7 linked regions of the Homo sapiens genome follow. The protein of the gene in region 3 interacts with the protein of the main gene of each other region in a pairwise test. Each region holds a gene or a part of one and is shown on either strand. Other genes may lie near its edges. The genes, in order: PPP1R16B, ZNF564, TADA2A, TTC23, AATF, FBF1 and TTC9C.

Region 1 (4,191 bases), on a different chromosome or scaffold from region 3:
CTAAAAACTATAAACTAAAAAATAGATACATGCAACAACATTTAAAGCACAGCAAAAATCACCATGAACAGGGAACAAGGTCAAAAGACACATGAAGAAACTAGGAAAATATTTTCAACATATATTACAGAAAAGAGACTAATTTTCTAAAAGTATAAAGAGCTCTTAAAAGTCCTTTTTTTTTTTTTTTTGAGACGGAGTCTTGCTCTGTCTCTCAGGCTGGAGTGCAGTGGCGCAATCTCTGCTCACCGCAACCTCTGCCTCCCGGGTTCAAGCAATTCTCCTGCCTCAGCCTCCCGAGTAGCTGGGATTACAGGCACGTACCACCACACCCAGCAAATTTTTGTATTTTTGTAGAGATGGGGTTTCACCATGCTGGCCAGGCTGATCTTGAACTCCTGGCCTCAAGTGATCCACACTCCTCAGCTTCCCAAAGTGCTGAGATTGCAGGCATGAGCCACCGCACCCAGCCAAAAGTCAATTTTTAAAAGCCTATCTACCCAATAAAAATAGTAGGCAGGGGATACTAATATGTAGCCCACAGCAAAATATATAGATATACATGGCATTGGAATAATATTCATCCCCACTAATCGTTAATACTATAAAAATTAAAACAACAAAATATCACTTTTGGATATCACACTGACAAATACGTTTAAAGTGTGTTATTACTCAGTGTTGGCAGGGGTATGGGGAAATAAGTGAGAATGTAAATTGCTACAGTCTCTTTGATGGACAGTTTTGCATCATCCTTCACTGAAATTTTTTTCTTTTTTTCCTTTCTTCTCTCCCCAGCTCTTCAGTAAAAAATAAAAACAATAATAATGATAAAAATTTTTAGAAAAGATTGTATACTTTGCACCAGCAAGCCCATTTCACAGATTTTCTCTCTCATTAGTGCAAAGCCTGAAAGTCATCATTGGGCAAGCAGGACACTGTGGCCAGTACTTCTATTGGCATGCTCTGTAGCTGGCAAAAAGAATGAAGGAATTCTCCACAAGCTGGCATGGAAAGATGTCCAAGATATATATATATAATCTAGTTTATAATCTAGTTTTCTAACATATATTTATATATAACATACATATATAAATATATATAAAACGTACATATATAACATATATGTACATATAACATATATATGTATTTATATATAACATACATATATAACATATATAACATATATATGTTATATATATATATGGTAATATGTGATAAGGCAAAGAACACTTTCCATAGTAAGTTTCCATTTATGAGTGTGTATTTCTTCGCTTTCTCCTTTTAGAGTCAGGGCCTCACTATGTTGCACAGGCTGGTCTTGAACTCCTGGTCTCAAATGATTCTCCCACCTCAGCCTCCCAAAGCACTGGGATTACAGGCATGAGCCACCGAGTCCAACCTTTTTTTTTTTTTTAATGGCTCCTTCTGAACTATGCAGGCAGACTGATGCCATGTCATGGAGAGACCGTTTCTTGGTGGTCCTAGTCAGTGCTTCTCAAACTTTGATGTGTATGTGAGTTGCCTAGGGATATTGTTAAAATCCATATTCTGATTCAATAGGTCTGGGTTGGGGCCTGCAATTTGGCACTTCTAAGAATTTCCTGCTGATGCTTAGAGTGGCAAAGATCTGAGACACTGATCCCATCTTGGATGCACATTGGCATCATCTAGACAGTTAAAAAAAAACATGTACAGGCCGAGCGTGGTGGCTCACGCTTATAATCCCAGCACTTTGGGAGGCTATGGTGGATGGATCACTTGAGGTCAGGAGTTCGAGACCGGCCTGGCCAACATGGTGAAACCTTGTGTCTACTAAAAGAAAAACACAAAAATTAGACAGGCGCAGTGACGCAGGCCTCTAATCCTAGCTACTCAGGAGGCTGAGGCAGGATAATTGTTTGAACCAGGAGGCAGAGGTTGCAGTGAGCCAAGATTGCACAACTGCACTCCAGCCTGGGCAATAAAGTGAGACTCCGTCTCAAAAAAAAACCATATAGAACACCAATCTGAAAGCATCACATATTATATAATTCCACGTATATAACATTTTGGAAAAGCAAGACTTATGAAAACAGTAGAAGATCAGTGATTGCTAGAGTTTGGGGAGGAAGCGTAAGTAGAATACCAGGGCTGTTTAGTGGGACAGCCCTGGTCTCTTTCACCAGTTGTTCACAATCTCAACTGTCTAATATAACCACCTAAACCAAGTGGCGAGAGCATTCTGTGTGACACTATCATGACGGACACATGACATTATGCATTTGTCAAAACCCACAGGAGTTACGACACAAAGAGCAAACCCGATGTAAACTATGGGCTTTAGTTCATAATAATGTATCAATATTGGCTCATCAGTGATAACATATGTACCACACTAATGCTAGTTGTTAATAACAGGGGAAACCAGGGTGGAGGGGGGTGTATATGGGAAATATCTGTACTTTCCACTCATTTTTCTAGAGTTCTAAAACTGCTCGGAAAAAAAAAATCTATTAGTTTAAAAAGAAAAAAATCCCTGCTGGGTGCAGTGGCTCATGCCTGTAATCCCAGCACTTTGGTAGGCTGAGGTGGGAGGATGGCTTCAGCCTAAGAGTTGGAGACCAGCCTGGGCAACATAGTGAGACCTCATCACTACCCAAATATTTAAAAATTAGCTGGGCATGGTGGTGCGTGCCTGTGGCTCAGCTACATGGGAGGCTGGGCAGGAGGATCACTTGAGCCCAGGAGGGTGAGGCTGCAGTGAGCCATGTTTGTACCATTGCAGTCTAACCTGAGTGACCCTGTCAGAATGAGACCCTGTCTCAACAAAAGAAAACAAAACCCACCTATATCCATCTCCAGTGTCAGAAATCAGAGCATTGAAGGAAGAGGAATTAACTCCAGCCTGAAGGATGTGGGTTAGACGAAAGAGGTTTTCTCATGATGCAGGGAACTTCTAAATGTACTTATCTGCCTAATGCTTAATGAGGTACAAATTATGGGCTGAGTTCTATACAAATAAGAACACAATTGACCCTAGAACACCCTTTGTGGTAGGCACCATCATCTTGGCAATGTTGAACTGAGATACTGGACAACAGGAAGGTTAAACAAAACCCCCACATTTTGTGTTCTGGGGAATGGCTGACTGCACAGAATCACCCTTCCCCATAGGATTTCCAGAACGCTCAGACGACCCCTCCTTTTCCTAGGACAACCCAAACACAGTCCCCCAAATTCTCATTCTTTTCCTCTGAAATGATTAAACTGTCAATTTATCAACCGAAATTAAATGCTTGCTAAATGATTTTTTTTTTTTTTTGAGATAGAGTCTCACTCTGTTGCCCAGGCTGGAGTGCAGTGGTGCAATCTTGGCTCACTCCAACCTCTGCCTCCCAGGTTCAAGTGATTCTCCTGCCTCAGCCTCCCAAGTAGCTGGCATTACAGGCACCTGCCACCACGCCTGGCTATTTTTAGTAGAGACAGGGTTTCGCCATGTTGGCCAGGCTGGTCTCAAACTCCTGACCTCAGATGATCCGCCTGCCTGGGCCTCTCAAAGTGCTGGGATTACAGGCGTGAGCCACTGCGCCCAGCGGTAAATGATTTAACCAAATTTTAGTTAAGCTGCTCCCCTCCCCACAGGATCCTGGACTTTGACTCACCCTGAGGGTAAACAAGCACTGCAATGCAGAAAAACTCTCCTGAAGACCGTTCTGGAAATGGGCTGACCACCAGACACACATTCCTGGTCAACTGTCCAATTACACCACCTGCTCATCCCACCCCCAACCCTCAGTCCTTGCAGCCTCTGTCTTCCTCCCTAGGAAACGAACTCCTTTCTCCTTGACCTCCAAGATCTTGCCAATTCTGTGGTCGATGCATTCTACTTACTGCTGCAATCACTTCAAAAACAGTCTCTCTTTAGCTTTAAAAAACAACGACATGGCCAGGCATGGTGGCTCACGCCCGTAATCCCAGCACTTTGGGAGGTCGAGGCGGGTGGATCACAAGGTCAAGGGATTGAGACCATCCTGGCCAGCATGGTGAAACCCCGTCTCTACTAAAAATACAAAAATTAGCTGGGCATGGTGGCGTGCGCCTGTAGTTCCAGCTACTCAGGAGGCTAAGGCAGGAAAATCACTTGAACCTGGGAGGCGGAGGTTGCAGTGAGCCAAGATTGAGCCACTGCACTCCAGCCTGGCAACAGAG
Region 2 (4,191 bases), on a different chromosome or scaffold from region 3:
CTGTTAGACACCTGCTGTTAGAACTGGTCGGTGTTTACACTTCGGGTGTCACAGAAAGGACACCAGAGGTCAGAACCTTAAACTGACTCCAGGTAAACATCTGGTCACTGGTGAGAATCGAGACCGTGAATCACATCATGAGGAGAGGAGAGTAGGGTGCGTGGAGCTCCCAGGATGTTTCCCTCACTCATTTCTTTTTTTTTTTTTTTTTTTTGAGACGGAATTTTGCTCTTGTTGCCCAGGCTGGAGTGCAATGGTGCGATCTTGGCTCACCACAACCTCCGCCTCCTGGGTTCAAGTGATTCTCCTACCTCAGCCTCCTGAGTAGCTGGGATTATAGGCATGCGCCACCACGCCCAGCTAATTTTTTGTATTTTTAGTAGAGACGGGGGGTTTCTCCGTGTTGGCCAGGCTGGTCTCAAACTCCTGACCTCAGGTGATCCACCCGCCTTGGCCTCCCAAAGTGCTGGGATTACAAGCATGAGCCACCACACCCGGCTCCCTCACTCATCTCTTAGGAGTGGGCCACATCTTCACATGAATGGTCCTCAGGCTTGTTTAACCTTCTGAATGTGGGTTTCCTTGTGACTGTGGGTGAAACAGGCTGCTAGGTAATAGATCCCAGAGAGAAAGGATAGTTCTCCTTGTAGGCCAACAGGAAGAGGGTGGCTGTTTCAGACCTGATATACACACCTAACCAGGGAGCAAGACAGAGGAATCTGGGCAGATGCCTTTATTGGAGACTCTGTGGGAGTTCTAGTTGGTGAGTTTAGAGCAACCAGATGGGAATTTCGTGGAGTCACATGGTGACTGAGAGGTGGTCCCTGCAGCCTCTCTGTGCATTCCTTGTGTAGGGTCAGTTGGATGATTTCCAGCAGTTTGTATCTAGCCGTCTCATGCGGAGGTGGTCACAGGGAGGCGGCTGTGTAAGGCAGATAACTGGATTGACCACATGGAGGAAATGGGAGGAGGCGTAGAACTGGAAACTGTATTAAGGGTGACTAAGCCCTGCTTCTGGTATGAGAAAGTTAAAGCCATATTCAAAGTGGCTTCTGAGGTAGCATACAATTTTAAGAATTCACTGCAATAGACAGCTCTACACTGAATTCACAACATTATGTGGAGATGATGGCAGAAGATGGGTTATCACTGCTGCTGGGGTTTAACTGTCCGTCGTTTCTGTCCCTGACTGACCATACCTGCTCTGTCATAGGTTCACATACCCTACATAGATGCCCTGGTTTCAGAATTTCCCATATTTCTTTGGTTTATCTTTCTGCTACTGCCATAGTGTCCTAATTATTTCATAACCCTGATGTATGGTTGAGAAAGTGCTGTACTGTCTTAGTCACCTGGGGATGCTGTAATACATTGCCATAGGCTGGGTGGCTTGAACAGCACACATGTAGTTTTCACAGTTCTGGAGGCTGGGAAGTCCAAGTTCAAGTGCTGGCAGATGTAGTGTCTGGTAAGGGCCTGCTTTGTGGTTTTCAGATCATCATCTCTCATTATATCCTCACAAGGCAGAGGAGAGAGGAAGCAAGCTGTCTCCTGTCATTTCTTCTAAAGGTGCTAATCCCATTTATGAGGGCACCACCCTCATGGTCTCTAACCCCGATTACCTCCCAAAGATGCCACCTCCTAATGCAACGACATTAGGAGTTAGAATTTCAGTATATGAATTTTGGGAGGGACACACAGATTCAGGCTGTAACATTTTCTAACAGTGTACTGTACGAAGTCTTTGCTGTTTTTAGATATTTGAGTCCTATTTCAGTTGTTTTTTTTTTTTTTTTTTTTTTTGAGACGAAGTCTCGCTTTGTTGCCCCGTCTGGAGTGCAGTGACGTGATCTTGGCTCACCACAACCTCCACCTCCCGGGTTCAAGTGATTCTCCTGCCTCAGCCTCCCGAGTAGCTGGGACTACAGGTGTGCCACCATGCCTGGCTAATTTTTTGTATTTTTAGTAGAGACAGGGTTTCACTATGTTGACCAGGCTGGTCTCGAGCTCCTGACCTCAGGATCCACCCACCTTGGCCTCCCAAAGTGCTGGGATTACAGGCATGAGCCACTGCACCCGGCTATTTCAGTTTTTAGAAGTGGTCCCTTCCCTTTCCCCTTCCCCTTCCCCTTCCCCTTCCCCTCCCCTCCCCTTCTCTCTTTTTTTTTTTTTTCTGAGACGAAGTTTCACTCAGTCACCTAGGCTGGAGTGCAGTGGTGTGATATCAGCTCACTGCAACCTCCACCTCCTGGGTTCAAGCCATTCTCCTGCCTCAGCCTCCTGAGTAGCTGGGATTACAGGTGCACCCCACCACGCCTGACTAATTTTTTTGTATTTTTACAAAGACAAGGTTTCACTGTTTTGGCCAGGCTGGTCTTGAACTCCTGACCTTGGGTGATCTGCCCGCCTTGGCCTCCCAAAATGCTGGGATTACAGGCGTGAGCCACCGCGCCCGGCCCCTTCTTTTCTTTTTTGTGGTGGAGTTTCTCTCTTATTGCCCAGGCCAGAGTGCAACGGCATGATCTTGGCTCACTGCAAACTCTGCCTCCGGGATTCAATTGATTCTCCTGCCTCAGCCTCCCAAGTAGCTGGGACTACAGGATGTGCCACCATGCCCTGCTAATTTTGTATTTTTAGTAGTGACAGAGTTTCACTATGTTGGTCAGGCTGGTGTAGAACTCCTGACCTCAGGTGATCCACCCACCTCGGCCTCCCAAAGTGCTGGGATTACAGGCATGAGCTATGGTGCCCGGCCCTTTTTTCTTTTCCTTCCTTTCTTTCCTTTTTTTCCTTTCCTTCCTTCCTTTCCTTTTTTCTTTTCTTTCTTCCTTTCCCTTTCTTTCCTTCCTTTCTTCCTTGAGATGGTCCCCCTATGTCACCAGGCATGATCTGCACTGGCGTGATCATAGCTCACTGCAGCCTACAACTCTTGGGTTCAAGCGATCCTCCTGCCTCAACCTCCTGAGTAGCTGGGACTACAGACACGTGCTATCATGCCCAGCTAATTTTTAATTTTGGTTGAGGTTTCATTATGTTGCCTAGGCTGATCTTGAACTCCTGGCTTCAAGTGATCCTCCTACCTTGGCCTCCCAGAATGCTGGGATTCCATGTGTGTGCCTGGCCTAGAAGTAGTGTTTCTTAAACCTTTTTTTTTTTTTTTTTTTTTTTGAGACAGAGTCTCACTCTGTTACCCAGGCTGGAGTGTAGTGCCGTGATCTTTACTCACTGCAACCTCTGCCTACCCGGTTCAAGCAATTCTTGTGCCTCAGCCTCCCGAGTAGCTGGGACTACAGGCGCCCACCACCATACCCGGCTAATTTTTGTATTTTTAGTAGAGTCGGGGTTTCACTGTGTTGGCCAGGCTGGTCTTGAACACCTTAGCCTCCCAAAGTGCTGGGATTACAGGCGTGAGCCACCATGCCCTGCCAAGAAATAGCATTTCTTTTTTTTTTTTTTTTTTTTGGACAGAGTCTCGCTCTGTCACCCAGGCTGGAGTGCAGTGGCACAATCTTGGCTCACTGCAACCTCTTCTCTCCCGGGTTCAAGCGATTCCTCGGCCTCAGCCTCCTGAGTATCTGGGATTACAGGTGCCTGCCACTACGCCCAGCTAATTTTTTGTATTTTTAGTAGAGACGGGGTTTCACCGTATTAGCCAGGACGGTCTTGATCTCCTGACCATGTGATCCGCCTGCCTCGGCCTCCCAAAGTGCTGGGATTACAGGCGTGAGCCACCATGCCTGGCAGAAATAGCATTTCTTAAGTTTAATAACATACCAAGCAAATCTGGTTGTGAATTTTATGGAATTAAATAAAGCACTGTATTTGGGACAGCTTAAGCATATATCATGGTAATATTCAGCCTCTTTTCTAAGGATCTATGCCATTTCTCCATGTAGTGCTTCCTAATTTGATTTTTTTTTTCTTTTTTTTTTGAGACAGAGTCTCCATCCCCAGGCTGGAGTCTAGTGGCGCGATTTTGGCTCACTGTAACTTCCGCCTCTTGGGTTCAAGCAATTCTCCTGCCTCAGCCTCCCAAGTAGTTGGGATTACAGGTGCGTTCTACCACGCCGAGCTAATTTTTTTGTATTTTTAGTGGAGATGGGCATTTGCCTTGTTGGCCAGGCTGGTCTCGAACTCCTGACCTCAGGTGATCCGCCCATCTCAGCCTCCCAAAGTGATGGGATTACAGGC
Region 3 (4,191 bases):
TGTGCCCGGCCTATTTTTGATTTTTGAGACAGAGTCTTGTTGTGACGCCCAGGCTGAAGTGTGGTGGTGTGATCTCAGCTCACTGCAACCTCTGCTTCCGCAGTTCAAGTGATTCTCCTGCCTCAGCCTCCTGAGTAGCTGGGACTACAGGCGTGTGCCACCATGCCCAGCTCATTTTTGTGTTTTTAGTAGAGATGGAGTTTCACCATATTGGCCAGGCTGGTCTCGAACTCCTGACCTCAGGTGATCCGCCCGCCTCCGCCTTCCAAAGTGCTGGGAGTATAGGCGTGAGCCACCGTGCCTGGCCCCTAGATTCCATTTGTATCTCTGTTCTTAAGCAAAACTTTTTTCTCCTTAGACTTCAGATTTTCCTGTCCTTGATCCCAGCTGGACTGCTCAAGAAGAAATGGCCCTTTTAGAAGCTGTGATGGACTGTGGCTTTGGAAATTGGTAAGAGCTTGGTGTTAAGAGTTGTCCTGCCCTAGTGGACTCAGAGAAGAAGCTGTTGTTGAAGAGTAAAGGAAGGAACCTCAGGAAGAGAAAGTATGTGTTGCTTTCCTATCAACCCATGATTTAGAGGCAAGTTAGTCCCCTCTGTACATTATTTTTCCAGTGTCGAAATGTGTCACGAGGATATGGGATGTTTAGCGGTCCATGACTGAGCAGCTTTAAAAGGCCACTTTGGATGTATCAACAGTGGGAAGATTGATTATTATTCCTTTCTGAATAGTAGGGAAGTTTAGTTTCGTTAGTTATTACTCCCTTCTGATTTTATGAATTTTTGTTAGTTGTAGATGCCCTAGTCATTTAAGTGAATCAGACTTTAGCTAGATGGTCATACGTAAGATTCAAGTTTCACAGACTTCCTGATAGCATTCTCTGTTTTTAGCTTTCAAACACCTACCTGCCTTAGTCCAAAACCGGCGGAATTGAATAGCACTTATTGCTGTTGACCTAGGGGGCAGCACCACTTAATACTACCACTTTCGTTTTTATCTTTTGGGAACACTTTCATATGGATGCTTTTATTTTATGAACTAGATAGCAGAGGCATTATTGAATATATTTTGTTCACAAATTATCTGAAGCCTAGGGGGTTGAAATGATTTCTTGTGATTACATAGCTTATTACTGAAGGACTCTTAATTAGGTCCTCCCTGTCCTGACTTACTAGTGTATATAACCTTTCTTGGTGTTCATCAGAATAAACTCTGCTGCCTGCCTCCCTTATGTCCAGGGACCTGAAGAAGGAGACCTGAATTTAGTTCACATTTTGCTTGTATTCATTCATTCAGTATTTATTAAGCATCATAAAATACTGTGTACAATGAGAAATACCAAAGGAGGTAGAAAAGTAATCACTTGTGAGGAGTTTGCTAGTCATCTTTGGCCTAGTTTTTCATTTTTTGCTTACCATTCTCTCTAAAATAGTCTAAACCTCTCTGTCCTCCTTCCCTCTTAACAAAGAACATAAAAAAGACATAGCTTCTCTATCCGCTGTGGGTAAGGCACTAAGTTTGGCAGTGAGTGGGCTAGAGCTAAGAATTATGAGATGCATCCTGTCTTCAGAAAGCTTATAGTTTAGCAGGGGACTTAAAAATACAAGTGATTGAAGTACACAAAACAGCACAGTGATGCCTTAGGGGAGGTCAAGTGAAATGCTGTGAAAAAGAGACCTTGAGGAAAGGACTTCCACCTGTACCTCTCCATTACCTTGGCTCAAGTCAGGGATTTTTTTTTATTGAGACAGTCTCACTTTATCACCCAGGCTGAAATGCAGTGGTGTGATCACAGTCACTATAACCCCGAACTCCTGGGCTCAAGGGATCTTCCCTCCTCAGACTCCCAAGTAGTTGGAACAACAGGTGTGCGCCACCATACTCAGCTAATTTTTAAATTTTATTATTATTATTATTATTTGGAAACAGGATCTTGCTCTGTCGCCCAGGGTGGAGTACAGGGGCATGAGCTTGACTCATTTCAGCTTCAACCTTCCAGGCTCAAGTGATCCTCCCAGCTCAGGCTCCCGAGTAGCTGGGACTACCGGCGTGTGCAACCACCCCTGGCTAATCTTTGTATTTTTTGTTGAGATAGGATTTTACTGTGTTGCCCAGGCTGGTCTCGAACTCCTGAGTTCAAGCCATCCTCCCACCTTGGCCTCCCAAAGTGCTGGAATAACAGATGTGCCCCACCATGCCTGGCCAGATTCTTAAGCAAGTTTCTTAATTATTTTGGGCCTCATTTTTCCTTCTTTGAAATTGAGATAGTAACAATATCCATACCACAAATTTGATACTAGGTTTAACTTAAATTCTGTTGTGAATGTTTCTAGCTCAGTGTCTGGCATCTCATAGCAGCTCTAGTAAAGAAATGTTTATGTTAAGTGTTTGGTAAACCGTAAAATATTAGGCAAAATAAAACTATATTTCTGTATATTTTGAATGTTCTGAAGTCACTTCTTATTATTTACAGCAATTATTTCTGTAGGGCCTAGCTCACAGGAAAATTTACAAATTTTCCAGTCATCTTTATTTATTTATTTATTTATTTATTTATTTATTTATTATTTTTTTTTTTTTTTGAGATGGAGTTTCGCTCTTGTTGCCCAGACTGGAGTGCAATGGCGTGATCTCTGCTCACTGCAACCTTTGCCTCCTGGGTTCAAGCAATTCTCCTGCCTCAGCCTCCCAAGTAGCTGGGATTACAGGCATGCATGCACCACCACGCCTGGCTAATTTTGTATTTTTAGTAGAGACAGGGTTTCTCCATGTTGATCAGGCTGGTCTCTAACTCCCAACCTCAGGTGATCCACCTACCTCCCAAAGTGCTGGGATTACAGGTGTGAGCCACTGCGCCTGGCCTCAGTCATCTTTCTTTAAGTGGAAAAGAAAGGACTTTTTAGTCATTATTTCTGTGTTTTAGACTAGCAAGATATGGAACACCAGATTACACCAATCTAGGCTTATATTTATGTCATTTTTCTGCTGATATCTTTTTGATATCAATTTGGAAATATGAGAGTATATTATATGGATGTGACTTAAAATATGAAAAGAGCAAATGATGCTTTTAGTATTATGTGTAAATACAAGTACCACTTCTCTCTTTTTCCCACAATCCTCTAGGCAGGATGTAGCCAATCAAATGTGCACCAAGACCAAGGAGGAGTGTGAGAAGCACTATATGAAGCATTTCATCAATAACCCTCTGTTTGCATCTACCCTGCTGAACCTGAAACAAGCAGAGGAAGCAAAAACTGCTGACACAGCCATTCCATTTCACTGTAAGTGCCTCCCTATCTTGATAAGATATACTTAGCTCATCCTTGGGCCCTGTTTCAGTAGCAGATAAAGAGTGATTTGATGACTTGGACAGCTAATGATATCACGGAAGATAGGAGGAGTTAGTATGGCAGCTATTGAGAGTCAGGATCGACCCAGCATGGTGGCTTGTGCCTGTAATCCCAGCACCTTGGGAGGCTGAGGCGGGTAAATCACTTGAGGCCAGGAGTTCAAGACCAGCCTGGCCAACATGGCGAAACCCTGTCTCAACTAAAAGTATAAAGATTAGCTGGACGTGGTGGCAGACACCTGTAATCCCAGCTACTGGGGAGGCCAAGGCAGGAGAATCACTTGAACCGGGTAGGCGGAGATTGCAGTGAGCCAAGATCACATCACTGCACTCCAACCTGGGTGACAGAGTGAGACTTCATCTCTTAAAAAAAAAAAAAAAAAGAGTCAGGATTATAATGTGGCAAAGAAGGAACATACTCTAAGGGTCAGAGTTCTATACAGGACATCAAGGTGCTTGAAGCCAATGTGTAGTTCCACCTACCTTGAGTCCTTTGAACATATCAGTTAACTTAGTGCTTTCCTTTGTAAAATAAGATGTCAAAAAGGGAAAACCTTTTCTATGCTATTATGAGTGCAAGTTTTTTTTCAATCCCTTTGGAGAGCTTATGATTATACATATGAGTTGCTTAGAGAATACAGTATTTGACTCATTATTATTAATTGCCTTGGTGTCAAGCCCAAGAATCAGTTTGTTATTTTTGTTCGCTTGGTTGTGTCAGTGATGGCGAACTTTTTAATCTCATGTGCGTGTGGGACCAGTGGGTCTCTTAATAAAATATAACCAAAAACATGATGAATTATAAATGACCATCTTTCCTGAATGACTCTCAGGGTACAA
Region 4 (4,191 bases), on a different chromosome or scaffold from region 3:
AACTTAATAAGAAATATACAAAACCTATATGAAGAACGCTTTTGGATGTGCCTGAAAGATACAAAAGTAGGAATGAAGAAATGGAAAGATATCCCTTGTTCTTGGATAGAAAAACTCAATATCACAAAGTTGTCAATTCTCACAAGATTTATTTATAAATAATGCAATAAAAATACTAGTAAGCTCTTTATGGAGTTAGACAAATTGATACAAAAATTCATGTAGAAAAATAAACACGGAAGAATAGCTAGAACACCTGATATTCTAGTAAAAGAAAAGCCATAAGGGGTGTCTACTCCTATCACATATTAAATCATTCTATAAAATCTCTGTAATTAAAACTGAAATATTGACACATGAATAAACAGAAAGACTAGTGGAAGAGAAGAGAAATCTAGAAATAGACTTAAGTCCATAAGGAAAATCAGTATATGATGAAGGTGTTATCTGAAGTCACTGGAGCATAGATGGGCTCTCTAATTAAATGGTGCTGGACAACTGGGTGGCCATTTGGAAAAAAGGTAAGATTAGATCCATTCCTCATGCCATCCACACAAATAAACTCCAAATTTAAAGAAGAATGACAATTGAAGAAAGTGTAAGAGAATTCCTCTATAAACTCAGTATAGAGAGAGCACCGCAAACATAAAGGACTGATCAATTGTACTACGTAAAAAATTAAAAATATTTGCATAGTAAAAACTGATAATTCATTTAAAAAATATGTATGTCTAAGAGGCTTACTATGTCTTTTACCCAAAAAGTATCAGGTTAGATCTACCACAAAAGTGATGTCATCCTATCTAAACAAGCCACTTCTAAAGTTTCATTTAAAAGAACCACCACAAGGGAGAGAAATTGACCTTGGAGAGGGGAGGGAGAGCCTAGTCTCGTGTTAGTACTGGTTCCAGCTTTACCTTCTTCAGTTTCTTGCGGGCCCCACTGTGGTTCCCCTGCGCCAGGTCTGCTCCTCCCAGGAGCCGGTATGTCTCTGCCACCTCGGGACTGAAATCGCCAAATGCTTCCACTTTGGCTTCCAGGGACTCTCTCAGGATCGAGGTTGCTCTCTGTGAAAGGAACAAAAAGCTATCTGGTTAACAAGCTCAAAGGCTGATTAGGATCATTACGCAACTTGTAACATTTTCACATGGGTGTGGTAGTCTCACGAGCTGAGCCTGTTCTCCTCTTGTATTAGTCCATTCTCATGCTGCTATGAAGAGATACCTGAGACTGGGTAATTTATAAAGCCAAGAAGTTTAATTGACTCACAGTTCCACATGGGTGGGGAGGCCTCAGAAAACTTACAATCATGGCAGAGGGCACCTCTTTCATAGGGCAGCAGGAGAGATAAGTGCTGAGCAAAGGGGGCAAAGCCCCTTATAAAACCATCAGATCTTGTGAGAATTCAGTCACTATCGCAAGAACGGCATGGGGGTAACCGCACCCATGGTTCAATCACCTCCCACAGGGTCCCTACCATGACACATGGGTATTATAGGAACTATAATTCAAGACGAGATTTGGGTGGGGACACAGCCAAATCATATCACCTCTGGTTGAACAAGAGTCAGGAAACAACACGAATGTGAGGAAAGGTGTAAACTATGAAGAGAGAGGACACCTGGCAAAATAAACCCACTCAGCCATTACAGGAATCCATTTCAGTTGAGTAGTAAGAACAAAAGCTGACATGGATCAGTCCTCACATGTCACTAATTGTGCTGAACACACACAATTGTGTGGGTCTCATTTAATTTTTGCTGTCTTCTTTAGATGGGTAAAATTTTAATCCTCATTAGGCAGAGGAGGAAACAGGCACGGCAGTTAAGAAACTTGCTCAGAGTCAGAGGGCTCAGCTGTGGTGGTGCTAGGATCTGAATCCAGCCAGTGATCTTCATACCTTTTTTTTTTTTTTTTTTTAAATCCGTCTCACCGTCTCAGCAGATCTTCCATTTTACAACAGCAGGTGGAAATCTGGAGGTTTTTTTTTTTTTTTTTTTAGACAGAGTCTCTCTTTGTCTACCAGCCTGGAGTGCAGTGGCATGATCTCAGCTCTCTGCAACCTCTGCCTCCCAGGTTCAAGCGATTCTCCTGCCTCATCCTCCCAAGTAGCTGGGATTGCAGGCGCCCACCACCATACCCAGCTAATTTTTGTATTTTTAGTAGAGACAGGGTTTCACCATGTTGGCCAGACTGGTCTTGAACTCCTGACCTCAAGTGATCCACCCACCTTGGCATCCCAAAGTGCTGGGATTACAGGCGCGAGCCACAATGCCCAGTCTAATTTTCATACATTTTAGTCCCATGCTTTTCTCCCTCTGTCCACAATGCTATTCTTACAGAAGTGAAAATATAGCATTCCTGGGCAAATTATCTATGTATAGAACATCCTGAACACACTCCAGGCTTGGCTATTCTCATAGGAAATCGTTTAGGAAACTGAAAGTAAACATTCCAACATGACATGACATTTTGTTTGGTTTATCCAATTTATTTATACTAACATGGAATAAAAATTATGAATTGGTCAGGACATAGTATTTCCTGATATTAGCTTCTTCAGACACCAAAATATGCAGGGGGAAACCCTGTTAAAGTATGTCAATCCTCCATACTTTCTCCAGAAATTCTTCCACGATCTTCCACATGAAGGCACGACATCAGCTGCAGAGCATGGATGCTGAATTTAACTGGCAAATACAGCAGGGACCATGGGAGCTTCCTCATGACACAGCCCCAAAGGGGTCCCAAAAGTGCTCCACAAACAGAAGGACAAGGAGGGCGTTTAATCCTTTTGTTGGCAATAATACAAGTTAGGGGATAGGGCCGGGGTAGGGGAACCACATTACAGGTGCTGATGAGGCAGAAATAAATTTCTCAGGTGAAAGAGGAATCTCTGTAGAGGCAGAGTGATTGTGTAACTCAGCAGTGAGGCCCCACTGAGGTACATGAGGGACTAGAATTTAAATCTAGACTTGCCTGAGGGTAAAGCCCATCACATCTCCCAAGTTCTGAGAGCAAGGACTTGGACTGCTGAGAGTGCTGGGTTTGGTGATATTTCTGTGGGAAAATATCACTGTCAGACTTAGAGGAGCCAGTGATGGGGAGAAGACCCGGGGAGACTCCCTTTCCCAGATAAAGCTTTGGATGCCGCCTACAGCCTGACTGCGGAAACGGGGAGATGTGAAGGAAGTTAAATGGCACGGGTTTCTAGGAAACTGAGATAGTATCAACCTCTGCTAGGAAAAGCTTAAGAGAGAGGAGTGAAGAGTAAAGAGGACTTAGGTGGGATGAGAAGAGGGTATGGGCCACTGGGAGCACAGGAGGAACACATGGCCTGTTGAGGGCCAGTGAGTGGCCAGGCTGAGGAAGTCACAGAAGATTCTTGAGCAAAAGAGTGGCACAACTAGAAGACAAACCCTCACGGAGTAGCTTAACCTGTGGCAGAGTGACCTTCACTTACATTTTACCTTAAAAGGCATTTCATCCCTCAAATATCATGTTCCACAGTGCCCATGGCCATGTGCTGTGGGAACACCTGGGATGGCCTGAGCACAGCCCCATTCTTGGCTCCGGGACTGTCCCTGGGCCCGGCCCTTGTTGGCCAACACCTGCTAGAACCCACAGTGAGAGGTTTGCAACCAAATGGTGAGAACAGCATGAGACTGCCATGTTTGGCTGGGCAGGTGGTGCCACACACAAGGGTGCCTGGCAGGAGCATGGGGAGGGCTGAAATCCAGCCTATGGTCCTCTCCAACATGGGCGGTATCTACCTGAGGAAGGGGCAGCTTTTTCTATTATGATAAGGGCATTGGATGGGCTGGCAGTGGCCCTAGAATGAAAAGAGCCAGTTTGCTAAAATCTTCGAGGGCAGCTTAGGAGAGTGAGGTGCATCTTTTGATCAACACTGATCTGGGTGACTTGGGCAAGGGCAGTGAGGCATAGCATCAGTGACACTGAGCATTGGCTGACTCAGCAAGACACTATGGTGGGAAGCCAGGCAGTACAGGGGAACTGATGCATGGCCCACAGGAGTCAGAACAGTCAGCTGGCCTGTGGCCAAACATGCATCCACCTCTCTGCTCATCACTCCTCACCACAGGCAAGAGGGTCTCTGCTTTCACAGGTTCGGTCTAGTTGCAAGATAGATGTTAAATATCCACATGAATATATACTTACAAATATTTGATG
Region 5 (4,191 bases), 450 kb from region 3:
TGCATGATCTTGCTTGTTCCTCACAACAATCCTGTGAGGTAGGCAACGTTGTTATTTCCATTTGGGAATATTTCAGAGAGTATTTAGTTCCTGTGTGTATCCTGTGCCTCCCCTTCACTCCCCACAGCCAGAACTGCTCAGGAGTCATGAGTTATAGGCATCACCTACTTTGGAGAATTGTAGATAATTAATTGTCCTTTCTCTGTCCTTTATTTCCCAGGTCACAAGGCACTTAAAGCATTGTTGAGGTCATTGGTAGGTCTTCAGGAAGAGTTGCTTTTCCAGTACCCAGACACTAGATATCTAGTAGATGGGACAAAGCCCAATGCGGGAAGGTAAGAGAACAGAATCATGGAGTTGCTTATTTTCTTTTCATTTGGATAGTTTCCCATCATTTATGAAAGAAAAGCTAAGTTCTCTTCAGGCAGATATTAATGTTAGTAAAATAGAGTCTCATATTTACCTGATGGTCAGGATGGCACATAAGTTGGTGATTAGATTTTAGATTTTTATATTTAGTTGTACCTGATGTGCTTTGCGGTCTTAGACAAAGGCTTGCCTTCTCTTTAGATCTATTGGAATTAGAAGATAAAAGCACTTTGTTTTTTAGAGATGGGGTCTTACACTGTCATCCAGGCTGGAGTGCAGTGATGTGATCGCAGCTCACTGCAGCCTCAAACTCCTGGGCTTAAGCGGTCCTCCTGCTTCAGCCTCCCAAATAGCTGGGACTGCAGGCACTTGCCACCATGCCTGGCTATTTTTTTTTTTTTTTTTTGTAGAGACAGGGTCTTGCTGTGTTTCCCTATCTGGTCTCAAACTCCTGGGCTCGAGCCATCCTTCCACCTCAGCCTCCCAAAGTGCTGGAATTATAAGCATGGGCCACTTCACCTGGCCAAAAGCACATTTTTAAAATATTAATGCTTAATTAATGTTTATGAAACATTCTGTGCCCATACCATATATTGGAATCACTGGTCACAGCCATCTCCTTTGAATAAAAGCTGTTATTATGAAAGATGGAAAAATTTCAGAAAACAGCAAAATAATTATTTTTTCCCCCTGAAATTATTACATTTGATGAAGATTTTTCCCCCTTTTGTTTACACCTGCTGTATATACCTGCTTGCTTTTTTTCCCTCGAGCTTATCTTTTGTTTCACTTTTTATCTACTGAACTAGTTGGGAGGACAAAAAGGAAACTCACATTTATTGAGCACCTATTATATGTTGAGGTCAGTAATCCAGTGAGTGCAACTGGCAGATAGTTGGAGGTTGTATTACATTGCCATGGCAGTTGCATAGATGGCACTGCAGGTTAGTTAGTGCTAATTGTTGCCTACCGCTTTGAGTTTTCTTCACATTCAGCTTCTCTTGTATTTGGTTCAACTAATATTATTCATCTTTCCTTAACAGTTGGTTACAGAGAGACACATTTCCCTTATTGATTTGAGGATTAAGGTCGTAGAAATATGGTTATGTGTTTAATTTTTAAATACTGTCCTATAATACTGCAGGCCTGGTTCATACACATTTCTAATAATTCTTTTAAAACCTCATTTATTTTTATGGTTTACTTACCTTTTAAAAAATATTTTGAAACTAGTTCTTTTTATATTTGTTTTAAAAGTTACATGAGGCTGGGTGTGGTGGCTCATGCCCTGTAATCCCAGCACTTTGGGAGGCCGAGGCAGGTGGATCACTGGAGGCCAGGAGTTTGAAACCAGCTTGGCCAACATAGTGAAACACCATCTTTACTAAAAATATGAAAAAAATTAGTCGGGCATGGTTGCACACACCTGTAATCCCAGCTACCCATGAGGCTGAGGCATGAGAATTGCTTGAACCCAGAAGTGGAGGTTGCAGTGAGCCAAGATCGCGCCACTGCACTCCAGCCTGGGCAACAGAGCAAGACTGTCTCAAAAAAAAAAGTTACACGAGTTTTTGATTGATCTCATGAATATTCTTCTCAAAGAGCAAAAGCCATCCTTATATCTTTGGTGTTATTTTGAATGGAGACAGAACAGGTAAGGCCTAAATATTCTCAGTCCTTTATGTGAGCCTAGTTTTTAAAATCTAAGTAATGTTTGTTTACACTGGACATAATATTCTTACTGCTTTTCTAGTGAGGAGATTTCTAGTGAAGATGATGAGCTGGTAGAAGAGAAGAAGCAGCAACGAAGAAGGGTCCCTGCAAAGAGGAAGCTGGAGATGGAGGACTATCCCAGCTTCATGGCAAAGCGCTTTGCCGACTTTACAGTCTACAGGAACCGCACACTTCAGAAATGGCACGATAAGACCAAACTGGCTTCTGGAAAACTGGGGAAGGCAAGTGTGTGTATGCGCGCATGTATGTGTAAGATAGGTTGTGGCAACTTGAAGAAGTTTTAAGAAATTGGAACTACAGCTCATTTATATGGATGTTGTCACGATGTAATGGTAATCATTCATTTCTATAGCAAAATCTACTGAACTTCTGGCACTGGGGTTTATACGATTCAGACTTGGGATTTTAACTTTATTAGAAAGAATGTTTTATTCTTAAAATTGAGGCCTTGTAAGTGTTCAAGTGCTGAAAATCCAAATACTTTAAAGGAGTGGATTTCAAAGCAATAATTATTAAAGTATCAGAAGCTAATCTCCGTGTGTAGAAAAATGATATGACCTGCTTAAGACTAACTTTTTTTTTTTAAGAACAATTATAGCCACTCACAAACTCAGTCCTTTACAGAAAGTCCCTCCTGAAAAGATGATTTTCTATCTCTCTGCTGACACAGAAAGATAGAGAAACCAATGTAGCTTGCCTTCAGCACTGATTTTCTGCATTATCTGACACTGCTTAATGTTGTTGCAGGGTTTTGGTGCCTTTGAACGCTCAATCTTGACTCAGATCGACCATATTCTGATGGACAAAGAGAGATTACTTCGAAGGACACAGACCAAGCGCTCTGTCTATCGAGTTCTTGGCAAACCTGAGCCAGCAGCTCAGCCTGTCCCAGAGAGTTTGCCAGGGGAACCGGTAAGAACTCTGTAATGCAGAGTGATTATGGGGAATAGTTTCTATGAGGCTTATTAGCTGAAAAACTTGTAGCTATTACCTGTTTATATAAGAGGTTAGTGAGAGAAAGGAAAGCAACACTACTTTACTGGATTACTGAGAGAAACTTGAGTGTATGTGAGAGGAGAGAGTTTTTAAAAATGGGGCTTCTATTAACTCCTGTGTGTCATCTTCTCTTAATTTTGAGTTTGATGCAGGAGTCTGGTAGTAGAAGCATTCATAATCCAATTTTCAAAATTCAGTTTTAAAGCTACTTCTGTAGAAATGTCAGTATTGAAACAAGTGTGTACTTTAGGCTCAACGTTTGCCATTTAGGTACTTTAGAAAGGGTGCAGAAGTGGAATAGTCAAATTCTTTTGTTTAAAGGAAACATTTAAAATTTTTTAATTATGGAAGAAATATATACTTAATCCTTTTTTAGTTTATAGCAACTTAAAATGAAAAGCAAAATTCTCTACTCTGAAAATTTCACTCCTGAGGTGAAATTTTTTTATTTTTTTTGTCAATTGCCTGTTAACGTAACTCCTGAGGTGAAATTTTCAGTATTTAATAGTTGTAACAAGTTTACAGTTAATAATTAATAGTTGTAACAAGTTTTTGGGTCTTTTCTATTTGTGTAACTATATATGTGTGCAAATAACAAATATATATGTATAAATATGGTTGCCTTTTTTACTAAATGAGAGACATTTATGTAGTATAAATATGTAAAATATTACAACTGTATTTAAAGTCTTGCAACTTTTAAAATCTAATAAGTCCTAGATACTCTTTCCATTTCATTACCTAGAGAGCTACCTCATTTTTCCTAATGACCTCAAAGTATTCCATTGTATGGATATGCACTATCATTTATGCAAACAATGGATATTATGTTGTCTCCAGTTTCAGAAACACTGCTACAGGAAAGATTCCTGTACATGTATTATGTGTTCGTATAAATATATGGGTAGATTTCTTGAAGTGGAAGTGTTAAAGAAAATACACCAAATTCTGATAGATGTTGCCAAATTGCCTCCAAAAAGGCTGCATTAATTTCAGTCGTAGAGGTGAAAAATGGTATCTTCTAATTCTAATTTACACATATTTAATTTGAATGAGGGTAAACATATTTTCATATGATTATTTATGGGTTTT
Region 6 (4,191 bases), about 38 Mb from region 3:
AAAACAAAATTTAAATGTTTTTATTATTTATTTTTTTGAGACAGAGTCTCGCTCTGTTAACCAGACTGGTGTGCCATGTTATGATCTCCACTCACTGCAGCCTCTGTGTCCTAGATTCAAGCGATTCTCCCACCTCAGCCTCTCTAGTAGCTGGGATTACAGGCGTGCGCCACCACGCCTGGCTAGTTTCTTATTTCTTTATTTTTAGTTTCACCATGTTGGCCAGGCTGGTCTCGAACTCCTGACCTCAAGTGATCCTCCAGCCTTGGACTCCTGAAGTGCTGGAATTACAGGCATGAGCCAACTTGCCTGGCATAAAAAAATTTATTTATGGTCTCGCTAGGCTGGTCTCAAATTCTGGGCCTTAAGTGATCCTGCTGCCTCAGCCCCCCAAGTAGCTGGGATTATAGGCACAGGCCACTGTGCCTGGCTAAGGTCATCATTATTTAAATAAAGCATGTGCTTATATATGAAAGGTATCTAGGGAATTCAAATGTCTCTGTGAGAGCTGAAGAGGCTAGGATGACATTTAATGGGCAAGAGCATCTGTCCCAATGTCAGGCCTCAGCTAATGTGACAGATTCGAGTGTCAGGAAGTGGGAAGTGCAGCTGATGGTTGCGGGGGCTAGACTGCGGAGGGCAGCCAAGGTGGCCGAGGGGCTTGCGGTGCTGAGGAGCGGACAGGGCGTGGTGGGGGGCCTGGCCAGGCGGCCCCTGCATGCTCAGGTGGGCAGTGCTGAGAGCCTGGCCAGGGCAGGGAGATGTAGAGGCAGGAAGCGGCAGGTGGGGCCTTGACCTCCTGAGGAAGTGAGGTCACGGGAGTGCCGCTACACTTGCGGGTGCCCTGGAGAAGAGGCCCCGTGGCAGGAGGGGCAGGAGGGCCAGGAGGACGGGCCTCACCTGCTCCAGCAGCCGGCTCTGCTCATTCAGCCGTGCCTCCATCTTCCCGATGACCTCCTGTTGCCGGCTCCGCTCCTCCTCCATGTCCCGCTGCTGCTGGCCCAGCCGCTCCTGCAGTGCTGGGGGCAACCCACAGGGTGCTCAGCAGCTGCTCCCCCTTCCCACCAGGAGCCGGGGTGGCTGAGAGGGGAGGGCGTACCCCGCAGCTGCTCGTCACGCTGCCGGATCCCCAGCTCCCGCTCCTGGGAGGTGGTGAGGTGCGAGGCCTCCACGCGGGAGGACAACTCGTGCAGGCTGCTGGAGAACTTCTCCATCTGGTGGATGATGCTATTCAGGGACCTGGAAGAAGACTGGGTCACCCCCTCCTGACGGTCTCGGGGACCTTCCGGCCCCCAACGTCAGGCGGGCATGGTTGGGGCAGCGCACATACCGCGTGTGGGAGGTGGCACTGGTGGCCGCATCGACCTCTCGGTCCTTCAGCAGCTTTAGCCGCTGCAGCTGCTCCTCGTGGTCTCTGCGCATGTCTAGGATGGACGCCCTGAGGGGAGGCGGGAGGGGAAGGCGGTCACTCTGAGCTGGATCACCCTGATGCGGTAACTCCTTGTGGAAGGGTGTGTTTCCGTGCAGCCCTTGCTCCCAGGCCTCTCCTCCGCCGGGCACTGCCTCAGTTTCCCCAGCTCCTCTGTCTTATCTGTCATGGTGCCTCAATGCTACACGCACTAAGATGGGCATTCCTCCCATTATTCAGCTTTTCTTTTTTTGGAGATGGAGTTTTGCTCTGTCACCCAGAGTCTCTCACTCTGTCGCCCAGGCTGGAGTTCAGTGGCATGATCTCGGCTCACTGCAACCTCTGCCTCCTGGGTTCAAGCAATTCTCCTGCCTCAGCCTCCCGAGTGGCTGGGACTATAGGCGCTCACCACGCCTAATTTTTTATATTTTAGTAGAGATGGGGTTTCCACCGTGTTGCCCAGGCTGGTCTCGAACTTCTGAGCTCAGGCAATCTACCCACCTTGGCCTCCCAAAGCACTGGGATTACAGGTGTGAGCCACCACGCCCGGCCCCAAGCAGTCTTTCTTTTTTTTTTTTTTTTTCCTAGAGATGAGGTCTCACTATGTTGCCCAGGCTGGTCTTGAACTCCTAGCCTCAAGCAATCCTCCTGCCTTGGCCTCCCAAGTGTTTTGTTTTTTAAATGTTTTTAGAGACAGGGTTTTGTTCTGTGGTCCAGGCTGGAGTGCAGTGGCATCATAGCTCATTGCAGCCCTGATCTCTTGGGCTGAAGGTATCCTCCTGCCTCAGTTTCCCAAGTAGCTGGAACTACAGGAGTAGCTGTCATGCCAGCTTATTTAAAAATTGTTTTTAGAGATGAGGTCTCACTGTGTTGCCCAGACTGGTCTCAAACTCCTGGCCTCAAGTGATCCTCCCACCTCGGCCTCCCAAAGTGCTGGGATTACAGGTGTGAGCCACTGCACCCGGCCCTGAGCAGTCTTAAAAGGCTGCCTCTGCCTTCATCGACCTCTGACTCCCTTAGGTAACTTTTCTTAGTTTCCTTCTCTTCTAGAAAGGCAACCCTATAAACATGGCAGGCACAACAGCGCAAGCCTTTCCCAGGTGGATCTTGTTTCTAGCCTCTACTGCATGAGCAGGCGAGTGGATGACCCTGTGCTTAGTTAGACCCTAGGCGGCTTGCTGCTGCCATGCCATGCCTGAACAGCCTGTGGGTACCCCCTCCTGCCTCTGTAAGAGCAGGTGGCACCCCCACCCATGGGTGTGATGGGTCAGTGTGCTCAGCCCTCAGTCCTCACTCACTGGACTGGGAGGGAAGGACCCAACCCCTGTCCAAAGGCTGCTGAGCCACAGCGAAGGGTCTCGTGGGGATGGCTCTCTTCCGGCTACTCCTTGCAAGCCTGCTCCCCAGCTGCCTGTCCCTGGGCCTCACCGCTGCAGCTCCCGGAGCCGCTCCATTTCCTGGTCCTTCTCCTGCGCTATGGCCGCCAAGCGCCGCTGGTGCTGGGCCGTAAGCTCAGCACGGGCCTGTTCGGCCTCCTGGCACTGCGACAGATACCGAGCTGACAGCTCTTCGTTCTCTCTCCGGAGCCGCTCCTCCCGTTGCTGGTACGATGTTTCTAGCACCTTGATGCGGCTTCTGCCAACAGAACACCCAGCCATGGCGCAAGGAAGGCAGAGGGCTGCCGCCTAAAGGCCTCTCCAGGCACACTGGGTGGCCTTTGGGGTCAGTGTGAGATCCAAGGCAGAGCTGGGGCCAGCGCCAGGGTACCTGTGTGCACTCTCGATGAGCTCCAGGTCTGCCTGGTGCTGCTGCTGCAGACTCCCCAGCAGCAGCTCATGCTGGGCCCGTTCTAGCTCCAGCTTCCGCACCTGGGAGACAGCAGGAGGGCCAGCAACCAGGGAGGGGAGGTGGCTGTACTCCACGCTGCCCTGTGCCAACAGCCCTTCCTCCCTCCTGGGGAAGCTTCCAGCCACTCTCAGTGTCCCCTCCTGTCGCAACCCTGCCACCAGCACCAACGGCCCCGCTGCCCCTCACCTGGGCCTCCAGCTCTGCCAGCCGGGCCTGGCTATGCAGCAGCTCGGCCTGGAGCTCAGCGGGGCTGCACTGAAGTTGCACCTGTGCTGCCAGGAGCTGCTTCTGGTATTCTGTGCTCGGCAGCAGGCTCCGGGCCAGGGACTCTGGGAGCAGGGGCTGGAGGAGAGGAAGAGAGGTGTTTCTAGTTAGGGAGGGGACAGGGGCCCAGCTGAGATCAGCTACCTCCTGGCCCACTGCTCACTGGACCTCCCTGCATCTGATCTGTGGCTGCAGATGGGGCCAAGGCCTTGGAAAGTAACAGTCACTGCGGCTAAGCAGTCCCCAGTGTACCTCCCCTTGCAGATCTGGTCAGGAGCATGTCTCCCTCCACCCTCCGGAACAGCTTCCTCCCCAGCATGGTCTCCGGCTTCCCAGACAAATGGCTGAACCCCAGCAGAGTCTTCGCTATGACAAAAGCTGATGCTGGCTTTTCCTGTCAGGCCTGAAGCCCACATGTTGACACTAATCTGGTTCCCACGAGCTGTCCCCTACCCACCATCTCCCAGGGACACACTCCTGGGGGGGGGGGGGGCACACCTCCCAGGCCCAGGTGTCACAGGTGACTGCCACACATGGGAAACAGAGGCAGAGGTGTGGTGGGAGGATGGCAAGGGTGGAGGAGGCTTTCTTGACAGAACAGGACCCTGCGGCCCTGCTTTCTGACTGCAGCATCCCAGCTCCCCGGCCTGGCTGCCTCCTTAAACTCCCCA
Region 7 (4,191 bases), on a different chromosome or scaffold from region 3:
TGGGATTATGGGTGTGAGCCACCATGCCCTTCCCAAACTGGCCCTTTTATACACTTAATGTCCAAAGTACATTTCCACCTTCACACTTTTGTAGGCTGTCTTTCCAGCTAGAATGCCCTGTCCCTTGAATGACACTTATCCAGATTTGGACTCAAAAGTTGCTTCCTTAGAGAAGCCTTCTGTAGCTGGTGCAGTGGCTCACAACTGTAATCCCAACACCTTGGTAGGCCGAGGAGTTCAAGACCAGCCTGGGAAATGTGGCGCAACCCGGTCTCTACAAAAAATACAAAAATTAGCCAGGCATGGTTGTGCTTGCCGGTAGTCCCAGCTATTCTGGAAACTGAGGTGGGCCAATGTCTTGAGCATGGGAGGCCGGGGCTGCAGTGAGCCAAGATTGGGCCACTGCCCTCCAGCCTGGGTGACAGAGCAAGTAAGACTCTGTCCCCCGATTCCTCCCACCAAAAAGCCTTCCAGAAGCAAACAGCACTCTGACTTCATTCATTCTCTGTCCCGACATAGTTTTATTTTTCTTAAAGCACTTTTTTTTTTTTTGAGACAGAGTCTTGCTCTGTCGCCCAGGCTGGAGTGCAGTGGCGTGATCTCACCGCAAGCTCTGCCTCCCAGGTTCATGCCGTTCTGCCCCAACCTCCCGAATAGCTGGGACTACAGGCGCCCACCACCACGCCCAGCTAATTTTTTTTTTGTATTTTTAGTAGAGACGGGGTCTCACCTTGTTAGCCAGGATGGTCTCCATCTCCTGACCTAGTGATCCTCCCGCCTTGGCCTCCCAAAGTGCTGGGATTACAGGTGTGAGCCACCGCGCCTGGTCAGCACTTTTTTTTTTTTTTTTTTTTTTTTTGAGACCAAGTCTCACTCTGTCGCCCAGGCTGGCGTCAGTGGCGCAATTCTGGCTCACTGCAAGCTCTGCCTCCTGGGTTCACACCATTCCCCTGCCTCAGTCTCCCGAGTAGCTGGGACTACAGGCGCCCGCCACCACGCCTGGCTAATTTTTTGTATTTTTAGTAGAGACGGGGTTTTACCGTGTTAGCCAGGATGGTCTCGATCTCCTGACCTCATGATCTGCCTGCCTCAGCCTCCCAAAGTGCTGGCATTACAGGCGTGAGCCACTGCGTCCAGCCTCTTAAAGCACTTTTAAAAATTAATTTACTTGGGCCGGGCATGGTGGCTCATGTCTGTAATCCCAGCACTTTGGGAGGCCGAGGTGGGCGGATCACCTGAGGTCAGGAGTTCAAGACCAGCCTGACCAACATGGAGAAACCCATCTGCACTAAAAATACAAAAAAATTAGCCAGGCGTGGTGGTGCATGCCTGTAATCGCATCTACTAGGGAGGCTGAGGCAGGAGAATTGCTTGAACCTGGGAGGCGGAGGTTGTGGTGAACCAAGATCGCGCCATTGCACACTCCAGCCTGGGCAACAAGAGCAAAACTCCGTCTCAAAAAAAAAAAAAATTAATTTACTTGGGCCAGGTGCGGTGGCTCACGCCTGTAATCCCAGCCCTTTGGGAGCCCATGACAGGCAGATCACGAGGTCAGGAGATGGAGACCATCCTGGCTGATATGGTGAAACTCCATCTCTATTAAAAATATTTTAAAAATTAGCTGGGTGTGGTGGCAGGTGCCTGTAGTCCCAGCTACTTGGGAAGCTGAGGCAAGAGAATCGCTTGAACCTGGGATGTGGAGGTTGCAGTCAGCCAAGATCGTACCAGTGCACTCCAGCCTGGGCAACAGAGGGAGACTCTGTCTAAAAACAAACAAACAAAAAATTCATTTACTTGTTTCTTCTGTATTCCTCCACTTTTTTTTTTTTTTTTTGACCACTTGGTGGGGATGTTGTAGAAGGGATACAGACATCAGCACAGGCCCTTTAATGTGCTCATCACTGCTGATTCTTGATCTTTCTCAGCACCATGATTTAATAATACTATGTTTAATTCCCACAGTTGTGAAATAGGGAGTGTTTCCCTTCTTAATCATAAAAAGGCAGAACATTGACCTGAATTGCCTGAATTGACTCCTCTGCAGGTTTGTATTTCAAGGTCCCATTAAGTCATCCAAGAGAATAGTGAAGTTATATGCTGTATTGTTACTGAGAATGATGATTTTGGAGTTAGACAACACTTCATTCAAATTTCATATTCCACCTAGAACCTGTAAGATCTTAGACAAGTTATTTGTCTGAGTCTTGATTTCTTCATCCACTAAATGAAGATAGTAACACCTATTTAATAGTGTAGATGCGAAGATTAAACAAGACAGTGTATATCAAGCACATAGCACAGCGCTTGCCATTTCCTGACAATTAATGGCAACCATTATTAACAAAGCTGCAGTACAAGAACTGTGGTGAAATGGGGGATTCAGGACATAGAGCCTCAGGTAGAAGAGATACAATGAAGGTTAGTTTGTTTTTTAAAAAATTGTAATTTATCTAATTTTTTTTTTTTAAGATGGAGTCTTGCTCCATAACCCAGGCTGGAGTGCAGTGGTACAATCTCGGCTCACTGCATATCTAATTTTATATAAAAAATTAATGGGGCCGGGCACAGTGACTCACGCCTGTAATCCCAGCACTTTGGGAGGCAGAGGCAGGTGGATCACAAGGTCAGGAGTTCGAGACCAGCTTGACCAACATGGTGAAACCCCGTCTGTACTAAAAATACAAAAATTAGCCAGGCATGGTGGTGAGCGCCTATAATCCCAGTTACTCAGGAGGCTGAGGCAGAAGAATCACTTGAACCTGGGAGGCAGAGGTTGCGATGAGCCAAGATCACGCTACTGCACTCCAGCCTGCACGACAGAGCGAGACCTCCATCTCAAAAAATAATAATAATAATGAGGGGGCTGGGCAGGGTGGTTCACGTCTATAATCCCAGTACATTGGGAGGCTGAGGCCAGCGAATCACCTGAGGTCAGGAGTTCAAGACAAGCCTGGCCAACATGGCGAAAACCCATCTCTACAAAAATACAAAAATTAGCCGGGCATGGTGATGTGTGCCTGTAATCCCAGCTACTCGGGAAGCTGAGGCAGGAGAATCACTTGAACCCAGGAGGCGGAGGTTGCCGTGAGCTGAGATCGCGCCATTGCACTCCAGCCTGGGCGACAGAGCGAGACTCCATCTCAAAAAAAAAAATAGGGTCTCACCTGGGCATAGTGGCTCATGCCTATAATCCCAGTACTTTGGGAGGCCAAGGTGGACAGATCACTTGAGGTCAGGAGTTTGAGAACAGCCTGGCCAACATGGTGAAACCCCATCTCTACTGAAAACACAAAAATTAGCTGGACATGGGTAATCCCAGCTACTCGGGAGGCTGAGGCAGAAGAATTGGTTGAACCTGGAGGTTGCAGTGAGCCAAGATCATGCCACTGCACTCCAGCCTAGCTGATGAGTGAGACTCTGTCTTAAAAAAATAATAAAAAAAGAATACATTTGTTATTCGGAATACACTTCTTATAACACTGCAGTGAATACTCTGCCAAAAAAAAGGGACAGGGGAGGGTCTCACTATGTTGCCCAGGCTGGTCTTGAACTCCTGGGCTCAAGCAAATCTCCTACCTCAGCCTCCCAAAGTGCTAGGATTACAGCATGAGCCACCATGCTCAGCCGAGTTTTAAATAAATTTTAAAGTATGTTCTTACCAGCTTTATAGCCAAGCCTAACTGGCTACTAAATATGTAGCAGAAAATCAGTAAATATTGAAGTAGATTACAAGATATATGAATTTTTTGTTTTGTTTTGAGACAAAGTTTCACTCTTGTTCCCCAGGCTAGAGTGCAATGGCACGATCTCGGCTCACCGAAACCTCCGTCTCCCAGGTCCAAGCGATTCTCTTGCCTCACCCTCCCGAGTAGCTGGGATTACAGGCATGCGCCACCACACCTGGCTAATTTTTATTTTCAGTAGAGACGGGGTTTCTCCATGTTGTCAGGCTGATCTCGAACTCCCGACCTCAGGTGATCCACCCGTCTCGGCCTCCCAAAGTGCTGGGATTACAGGCATGAGCCACTGCACCTGGCCGATATGTGAAGCTTTTATTCACTGCTGCATCCCCAGTGTGTAGAAGAGTGTCTGGCATATGGGAGACACTTTAGCATTTGTTGACTGAATGTTGTTACCACCCTGTTCAGTACTGTCTTGAGCTGGCCAGTGGAACCTGGTGTAACGAGCCCC

What was found.
Region 1: the proteins of TADA2A (region 3) and PPP1R16B interact in binary tests that used the Homo sapiens proteins (3 or more experiments, as listed by UniProt).
Region 2: the proteins of TADA2A (region 3) and ZNF564 interact in binary tests that used the Homo sapiens proteins (3 or more experiments, as listed by UniProt).
Region 4: the proteins of TADA2A (region 3) and TTC23 interact in binary tests that used the Homo sapiens proteins (3 or more experiments, as listed by UniProt).
Region 5: the proteins of TADA2A (region 3) and AATF interact in binary tests that used the Homo sapiens proteins (3 or more experiments, as listed by UniProt).
Region 6: the proteins of TADA2A (region 3) and FBF1 interact in binary tests that used the Homo sapiens proteins (3 or more experiments, as listed by UniProt).
Region 7: the proteins of TADA2A (region 3) and TTC9C interact in binary tests that used the Homo sapiens proteins (3 or more experiments, as listed by UniProt).

Annotation. Positions count from the first base shown.
Region 1 is NC_000020.11:38,913,296-38,917,486, reverse strand, and holds part of PPP1R16B (protein phosphatase 1 regulatory inhibitor subunit 16B isoform 1 precursor), read right to left. Parts: intron 1-4,191. UniProt on the Homo sapiens protein: Regulator of protein phosphatase 1 (PP1) that acts as a positive regulator of pulmonary endothelial cell (EC) barrier function. Involved in the regulation of the PI3K/AKT signaling pathway, angiogenesis and endothelial cell proliferation.
Region 2 is NC_000019.10:12,541,286-12,545,476, reverse strand, and holds part of ZNF564 (zinc finger protein 564), read left to right. Parts: intron 1-4,191.
Region 3 is NC_000017.11:37,437,380-37,441,570, forward strand, and holds part of TADA2A (transcriptional adapter 2-alpha), read left to right. Parts: intron 1-358; coding exon 359-450; exon of another isoform or gene 451-579; intron 580-3,125; coding exon 3,126-3,283; intron 3,284-4,191. UniProt on the Homo sapiens protein: Component of the ATAC complex, a complex with histone acetyltransferase activity on histones H3 and H4. Required for the function of some acidic activation domains, which activate transcription from a distant site. Binds double-stranded DNA.
Region 4 is NC_000015.10:99,155,231-99,159,421, forward strand, and holds part of TTC23 (tetratricopeptide repeat protein 23), read right to left. Parts: intron 1,068-4,191; coding exon 918-1,067; intron 1-917. UniProt on the Homo sapiens protein: Participates positively in the ciliary Hedgehog (Hh) signaling.
Region 5 is NC_000017.11:36,986,397-36,990,587, forward strand, and holds part of AATF (protein AATF), read left to right. Parts: intron 1-220; coding exon 221-335; intron 336-2,122; coding exon 2,123-2,324; intron 2,325-2,850; coding exon 2,851-3,015; intron 3,016-4,191. UniProt on the Homo sapiens protein: Part of the small subunit (SSU) processome, first precursor of the small eukaryotic ribosomal subunit.
Region 6 is NC_000017.11:75,916,832-75,921,022, forward strand, and holds part of FBF1 (fas-binding factor 1), read right to left. Parts: intron 3,599-4,191; coding exon 3,443-3,598; intron 3,277-3,442; coding exon 3,176-3,276; intron 3,044-3,175; coding exon 2,837-3,043; intron 1,439-2,836; coding exon 1,331-1,438; intron 1,240-1,330; coding exon 1,100-1,239; intron 1,020-1,099; coding exon 901-1,019; intron 1-900. UniProt on the Homo sapiens protein: Keratin-binding protein required for epithelial cell polarization. Involved in apical junction complex (AJC) assembly via its interaction with PARD3. Required for ciliogenesis.
Region 7 is NC_000011.10:62,731,156-62,735,346, forward strand, and holds part of TTC9C (tetratricopeptide repeat protein 9C), read left to right. Parts: intron 1-1,962; exon of another isoform or gene 1,963-2,044; intron 2,045-4,191.